Linked DNA regions of Homo sapiens. The protein of the gene in region 1 interacts with the protein of each later gene in a pairwise test. Each region holds a gene or a part of one and is shown in the gene's direction. Other genes may lie near its edges.

Region 1 (3,534 bases):
CACCACGTACCGGGTCATCTTCACGGGGATGCCCACGGACCCCCTGGGTGAGCCTGCAGACTCTCTGGCCCTGTCGCCCCCTCTCCCCCAGGTCTTTGGGATGGATGGGCTTTCCCTGCCTCCCTCTCCCTTTTCTCGGGGGTTCTGGGTGCCCGTGGGAAACGGGCCTTTGTCTGCTCCTTCCCCACCCACTTGGGATTCCCCATAACTGTGGTACCCTGAGATTCTGGGACCCCCCCCCCCTTACCTTCCTTGCTTCTGACTCTGCCTGGCCTGTCCTAAGTTGGGGAGCAGGTGGTGGTCCGCTCCTTCCCGGTGGCTGCGCTGACCAAGGAGAAGCGCATCAGCGTCCAGACCCCTGTGGACCAGCTCCTGCAGGACGGGCTCCAGCTGCGCTCCTGCACATTCCAGGTGGGGCGCGGTGCGCGGGTGGGGCTCTCATCCCCCGCCCTGGTCTTTCTCCTGCAAACCGGTCTTTCTTGTATGAACCATTTTTAGGCCAGTCTCCAGCAGTGGCCCTGTTGTTACGCTTGCATGTCTGGGGCCCTCACTGTGGCTCTTGAGTTGATGTCCACTGTTTGATGTGCGGTCTTTGGGTCCTTGTCCTTTCCTTGGGGCGCCGGCCCTCAAGTCCGTGTCTTGGGTGTGCCTTGCAAACCCAGGCCTCAGCTCACAGCCACTGAGATTTCGAGTTTACACAAGCGCTTGCCTTCGTGTGACACAGATACAGGCCTTTGCCTGGGGCCTGCTTCTCTCTCTGTCATGGCTGCGAGGGGAAGGGGAGCCTGGCAGTGTCAGAGTTGGGGGAGGGGCTGGGGGGCCACCCACACCCCTAAGGGCTGCTTTTACTGACACAGCTGCTGAAAATGGCCTTTGACGAGGAGGTGGGGTCTGACAGCGCCGAGCTCTTCCGTAAGCAGCTGCATAAGCTGCGGTACCCGCCGGACATCAGGGCCACCTTTGCGTTCACCTTGGGCTCTGCCCACACACCTGGCCGGCCACCGCGAGTCACCAAGGACAAGGGTCCTTCCCTCAGGTATGGATCTGGGTCCCAGGCAGGGCAGCTGGGCCTCAGCCGTGTTCCCGCTCCAACCCTCCTAGGCCCCTGTGCTCATCTTTGTCCCTCCTCCTCTCACCTTTGCTGACTCTCGTGGGCCTCAGAACCCTGTCCCGGAACCTGGTCAAGAACGCCAAGAAGACCATCGGGCGGCAGCATGTCACTCGCAAGAAGTACAACCCCCCCAGCTGGGAGCACCGGGGCCAGCCGCCCCCTGAGGACCAGGAGGACGAGATCTCAGGTGGAGGGGTGGGGGTGGAGTCCTGGGTGGTCTCTGGATGCTGACATTGGCCAGGGAGGATCAGGGCAGGCGGAGTGGCCCCGTGATGACCACGTGTGCCCGGCCTGTGCAGTGTCGGAGGAGCTGGAGCCCAGCACGCTGACCCCGTCCTCAGCCCTGAAGCCCTCCGACCGCATGACCATGAGCAGCCTGGTGGAAAGGGCTTGCTGTCGCGACTACCAGCGCCTCGGTCTGGGCACCCTGAGCAGCAGCCTGAGCCGGGCCAAGTCTGAGCCCTTCCGCATTTCTCCGGTCAACCGCATGTATGCCATCTGCCGCAGGTGAGGGCCGGCCAGGGCTGGCCCGGGTGGTGGACACGTGACTGGGTGTCTTCCCTGCCCGCTGTGGGCCTGGGCCACGGCTTCTGGTCATGTAAGGAATGTGGAGGGGGAGACTCCGGGCAGAGGGACGGGCCACAGGGCTGGGGGGTGGCTGGGGGGCCCCGTGGCTGAGCTGGAAGCGCCTCCTGCTGGGAGCCATGGGCTGGCTCCTCTTGCCCTGCTTGGGGCGTGAGCCTGGAGGCGGGTGGGGTCGCCAGCCACCTTCACGCCTCTGCCTCCTCTCAGCTACCCAGGGCTGCTGATCGTGCCCCAGAGTGTCCAGGACAACGCCCTGCAGCGCGTGTCCCGCTGCTACCGCCAGAACCGCTTCCCCGTGGTCTGCTGGCGCAGCGGGCGGTCCAAGGCGGTGCTGCTGCGCTCTGGAGGCCTGCATGGCAAAGGTGTCGTCGGCCTCTTCAAGGCCCAGAACGCACCTTCTCCAGGTACCTCCTGCGTCCTGCCCTGTGCCTGCCCTGCCCTATCTCACCCTCCCCTCCCTCAGCTCCGTGTCCTCCCCCAGGCCAGTCCCAGGCGGACTCGAGTAGCCTGGAGCAGGAGAAGTACCTGCAGGCTGTGGTCAGCTCCATGCCCCGCTACGCCGACGCGTCGGGACGCAACACGCTTAGCGGCTTCTCCTCAGCCCACATGGGCAGTCACGGTGAGGGTGCTTGTGGGCAGACGGTGGGGCAGGGGCACTTTGGGGGGCCGTGGTGGCATTTATGGTTTGGCAGGCAGGCCAGGGAGGAGCAGAAACGGCGCTGGTCATGGATGTTTGGGTGTGGGATGAGGAGCATGCCCTCCGGGTGCCGTGGGGCAGGGGCGGGAAGCCTGTCCAGACCAAGTGTGTGCCCAGACCAGGTGTGTGCCCTGACCTCCTGCCCGCCCTGACGTCCTGCCCGCTCTCCACCTCTGCGTCTGCTGCAGCTTCCTGTAGGGTCCTCCGGGTGCTGCCTCTACGCGGCTCTGTCTTACCATTTCCCACAGCCTGGAAACATCCCAGATGCTCCTCTGTCCTGTTCCCTCCCAGTGTCACTGTTTTTCCTCATCCCCCACACTCCACCCTCCCTGCATCCCCCAATCCAGACTGTCTTTGGAGCCTCTGGCCTGGCTCTGCCTGCAGCTTGGCCTCTGTCCTCGTGTGTCCTGGTTCCTTGGGCCTTGCCCGAGCTGGCCTTGCTGTCTCTGTCCCCACCGCCACGCACACTTCACAGGCGCCCTGCACACACTGAGCTAGACTGGCCCCAGGACGGGGTGGCAGATAGGCCCCACACTCACTCCTGTGTCCGGACCACCTGTTCTCTAGTTCAGAAGTGGTTTTGTTTTTCCAGATACCACATTATATACTTACATTTTACAATCGCCCTGTCTTGCTGCCTTCCCACCCCTGCCAGAAACCCTGAGTGGCATTTGCAGGTGGGGCCGCCCCTGCACCCCCCATGCCTGTGCTTCCCACAGAGTCCCTTTTGCGTCTCCGACCATCCCCAGTGCCAGTGGCTGCTGCCTCCCCGTGTCCCCCTCAGTGCCCAGCAATGCTCAGGGGCTCAAGCTTCACTCAGCTGTAGTCGTGGCTTCTAGTCCCAGCCCTGACCTTTTTTTTTTTTTTTTTTTGAGTCGGAGTCTTTCTCTGTCACCCACGCTGGAGTGCGGTGGTGCGATCTCGGCTCACTGCAAGCTCCACCTCCCAGGTTCACGCCATTCTCCTGCCTCAGCCTCCCGAGTAGCTGGGACTACAGGTGCCCGCCACCGCGCCCGGCTGATTTTTTTGTATTGTATTTTTAGTAGAGACAGGGTTTTACCGTGTTAGCCAGGATGATCTCGATCTCCTGACCTGGTGATCCGCCCGCCTCGGCCTCCCAAAGTGCTGGGATTACAGGCGT
Region 2 (3,807 bases), on another chromosome or scaffold:
TGAGTGCGGCCCTGGTGGCACCGTGAGGGGCCGAGGCCGAGTGCCACCTGCCCACCCATGTCAAATCATGGCCATGAGTAGTGAGGTCAGGGGGCTGCCGGAGCCACCTGTAGTGGCCACACGCCAGCAGCCCAAGTGGCTGGTTGGGTGGCGACCCCACACCGGGGGAGATACCACCCTGACAGGGTGCCCCAGGGACCCCATGGTGGGGTCAAGGCATACGTACAGGGCCAACGGCCCGTCTTCAGCATGCCGGGGGGTCTGTCCTGAGACGGGGGCCTTGGTGAGTACCTGTCCCTGGGGAGAGGGTCTGGGTGGGGTGTTGGCTGCCTTCACGGGAGCGTAGGTCGGGCCGTGCCAGGCAGAGGGGCTGACGGTGGTGCTGGGATCTCCCACGGCCGCAGCCTGGAAGCCCCTATCCTGAGTGCCTAGCCCGGAGCGTTCATTCACACCTGGTGTAGACTCGGAAGGGGCAGGGCCGAGCCGCCAGGGGAGTGGTCCGCCCCGGGGTGGGCGCCCCTCCCTGCCTCACCTCTGCTGCTTCCCCAACCGCCCCCACCACTCCCGGGCTTTGGTCTGGCCGCCTTCTGCTTCTGGGGAACTCTCAGATCCCACGGGCCAGGCCCCCTCCCTGAGCTTTTGGGGCCTCCCCTAAGCCACTTGACTGCCCCATCATGGACACTGTCCCCTCCTCACCTCTCCACCAAGGTGCCCCTTCCTGGCCTGCCCACCCACTGCACGCTGGCTGGGGTCTCCAGTCACAGGGCTCTGGCCAAGGTCATGGTGACGTCTTGCCAAATCACCTCTGTCTCACTCTGCAGCCTCTTGGGACAGCCAGGGACCAAAGTGGCTGGGTGAAGCCACAGCCCACGGGGAAGGAGACCCCAGTTACCCTACCCGCCTGCACGCTCTGTGCACCCCTGCCTGTTACCCAGCCCTGCCCATGCTGGCCTGAGGCGTCCCCTCTCTCCCCTTCCTTCCCCCTCCCTCCCCCTCCCTCAGCCCCCTGCTGGTGCGGGCCCTACTCCGCTTTGGGCTCCACGCCCGCCCTCCAGCTCCCCCAGGGCAGCTCCCACACCGGGCAGTGTCTGGTCTTCAGTGCATCAGTGAATGAATGAATGAGTGGACAAGCAGATGGATTCGGCCAGCCCGGCCTTTATGTGCAGGCTCCACAGGTGCTGGGCTTGGGCCTGGCAGGGTGCACATTGCCTGCTGAAAGGACGCGCTGTCCTCAGGGAGGGGCGGCTGGTATGGTACCAGGCCCCGGTCCTGAGGCACTGGCGTGATGGCGGGAGCTGCCCCATTCGGCGCCCCGGGGATCCTGCGCGGTCCTTGCTGTGGCAGGCTGTGCCCAGCCCTGGCTCACGGCTGTCGCCCCACAGGTCCCTGGGCGTGACCATCTGGGAGCTCTTTGAGCTGGGCACGCAGCCCTATCCCCAGCACTCGGACCAGCAGGTGCTGGCGTACACGGTCCGGGAGCAGCAGCTCAAGCTGCCCAAGCCCCAGCTGCAGCTGACCCTGTCGGACCGCTGGTGAGGGCCCCACTGCCCTGTCCCGGACAGCCAGGCCGAGATGGGGTATCCTGATCCCCAGGCAGAGGCGGCTCACCCTGACCCCCTGGCGTTCCAGCCCTGCCTGGTCTCCCCTCCCCTCTGGTAGGGCCTCCACCCGCCACCTCTGCACCCCTGTGTACAGGGAGGGAAGGCTTAAGGATAGTGCCCAGCCCACCTCCTGCTCCCACGCTGCTGGGCTTGCCTTGGCAGATTTGGGGTGTCAATTAAGTGGGAGATACCCTTAATGCCCCCAAGACACTGGGAGTTAGGGGAACCCCCATCCCTGCTCCAGGGACGCGTTCCTGGCCAGCGTTGCCTCTGACGTGGCCCCCGGGGGACCTCCTCGCAGGTACGAGGTGATGCAGTTCTGCTGGCTGCAGCCCGAGCAGCGGCCCACAGCCGAGGAGGTGCACCTGCTGCTGTCCTACCTGTGTGCCAAGGGCGCCACCGAAGCAGAGGAGGAGTTTGAACGGCGCTGGCGCTCTCTGCGGCCCGGCGGGGGCGGCGTGGGGCCCGGGCCCGGTGCGGCGGGGCCCATGCTGGGCGGCGTGGTGGAGCTCGCCGCTGCCTCGTCCTTCCCGCTGCTGGAGCAGTTCGCGGGCGACGGCTTCCACGCGGACGGCGACGACGTGCTGACGGTGACCGAGACCAGCCGAGGCCTCAATTTTGAGTACAAGTGGGAGGCGGGCCGCGGCGCGGAGGCCTTCCCGGCCACGCTGAGCCCTGGCCGCACCGCACGCCTGCAGGAGCTGTGCGCCCCCGACGGCGCGCCCCCGGGCGTGGTTCCGGTGCTCAGCGCGCACAGCCCGTCGCTGGGCAGCGAGTACTTCATCCGCCTAGAGGAGGCCGCACCCGCCGCCGGCCACGACCCTGACTGCGCCGGCTGCGCCCCCAGTCCACCTGCCACCGCGGACCAGGACGACGACTCTGACGGCAGCACCGCCGCCTCGCTGGCCATGGAGCCGCTGCTGGGCCACGGGCCACCCGTCGACGTCCCCTGGGGCCGCGGCGACCACTACCCTCGCAGAAGCTTGGCGCGGGACCCGCTCTGCCCCTCACGCTCTCCCTCGCCCTCGGCGGGGCCCCTGAGTCTGGCGGAGGGAGGAGCGGAGGATGCAGACTGGGGCGTGGCCGCCTTCTGTCCTGCCTTCTTCGAGGACCCACTGGGCACGTCCCCTTTGGGGAGCTCAGGGGCGCCCCCGCTGCCGCTGACTGGCGAGGATGAGCTAGAGGAGGTGGGAGCGCGGAGGGCCGCCCAGCGCGGGCACTGGCGCTCCAACGTGTCAGCCAACAACAACAGCGGCAGCCGCTGTCCAGAGTCCTGGGACCCCGTCTCTGCGGGCGGCCACGCTGAGGGCTGCCCCAGTCCAAAGCAGACCCCACGGGCCTCCCCCGAGCCGGGGTACCCTGGAGAGCCTCTGCTTGGGCTCCAGGCAGCCTCTGCCCAGGAGCCAGGCTGCTGCCCCGGCCTCCCTCATCTATGCTCTGCCCAGGGCCTGGCACCTGCTCCCTGCCTGGTTACACCCTCCTGGACAGAGACAGCCAGTAGTGGGGGTGACCACCCGCAGGCAGAGCCCAAGCTTGCCACGGAGGCTGAGGGCACTACCGGACCCCGCCTGCCCCTTCCTTCCGTCCCCTCCCCATCCCAGGAGGGAGCCCCACTTCCCTCGGAGGAGGCCAGTGCCCCCGACGCCCCTGATGCCCTGCCTGACTCTCCCACGCCTGCTACTGGTGGCGAGGTGTCTGCCATCAAGCTGGCTTCTGCCCTGAATGGCAGCAGCAGCTCTCCCGAGGTGGAGGCACCCAGCAGTGAGGATGAGGACACGGCCGAGGCCACCTCAGGCATCTTCACCGACACGTCCAGCGACGGCCTGCAGGCCAGGAGGCCGGATGTGGTGCCAGCCTTCCGCTCTCTGCAGAAGCAGGTGGGGACCCCCGACTCCCTGGACTCCCTGGACATCCCGTCCTCAGCCAGTGATGGTGGCTATGAGGTCTTCAGCCCGTCGGCCACTGGCCCCTCTGGAGGGCAGCCGCGAGCGCTGGACAGTGGCTATGACACCGAGAACTATGAGTCCCCTGAGTTTGTGCTCAAGGAGGCGCAGGAAGGGTGTGAGCCCCAGGCCTTTGCGGAGCTGGCCTCAGAGGGTGAGGGCCCCGGGCCCGAGACACGGCTCTCCACCTCCCTCAGTGGCCTCAACGAGAAGAATCCCTACCGAGACTCTGCCTACTTCTCAGACCTCGAGGCTGAGGCCGA

What was found.
Region 2: the proteins of SBF1 (region 1) and AATK interact in a two-hybrid assay, tested with the Homo sapiens proteins (one study listed by BioGRID and IntAct).

The regions. Positions count from the first base shown.
Region 1 is NC_000022.11:50,458,036-50,461,569, reverse strand, and holds part of SBF1 (myotubularin-related protein 5), read left to right. Parts: coding exon 1-47; intron 48-283; coding exon 284-411; intron 412-857; coding exon 858-1,036; intron 1,037-1,161; coding exon 1,162-1,298; intron 1,299-1,410; coding exon 1,411-1,618; intron 1,619-1,903; coding exon 1,904-2,100; intron 2,101-2,177; coding exon 2,178-2,315; intron 2,316-3,534. UniProt on the Homo sapiens protein: Acts as an adapter for the phosphatase MTMR2 to regulate MTMR2 catalytic activity and subcellular location. Promotes the exchange of GDP to GTP, converting inactive GDP-bound Rab proteins into their active GTP-bound form.
Region 2 is NC_000017.11:81,120,919-81,124,725, reverse strand, and holds part of AATK (serine/threonine-protein kinase LMTK1), read left to right. Parts: intron 1-1,382; coding exon 1,383-1,532; intron 1,533-1,902; coding exon 1,903-3,807. UniProt on the Homo sapiens protein: May be involved in neuronal differentiation.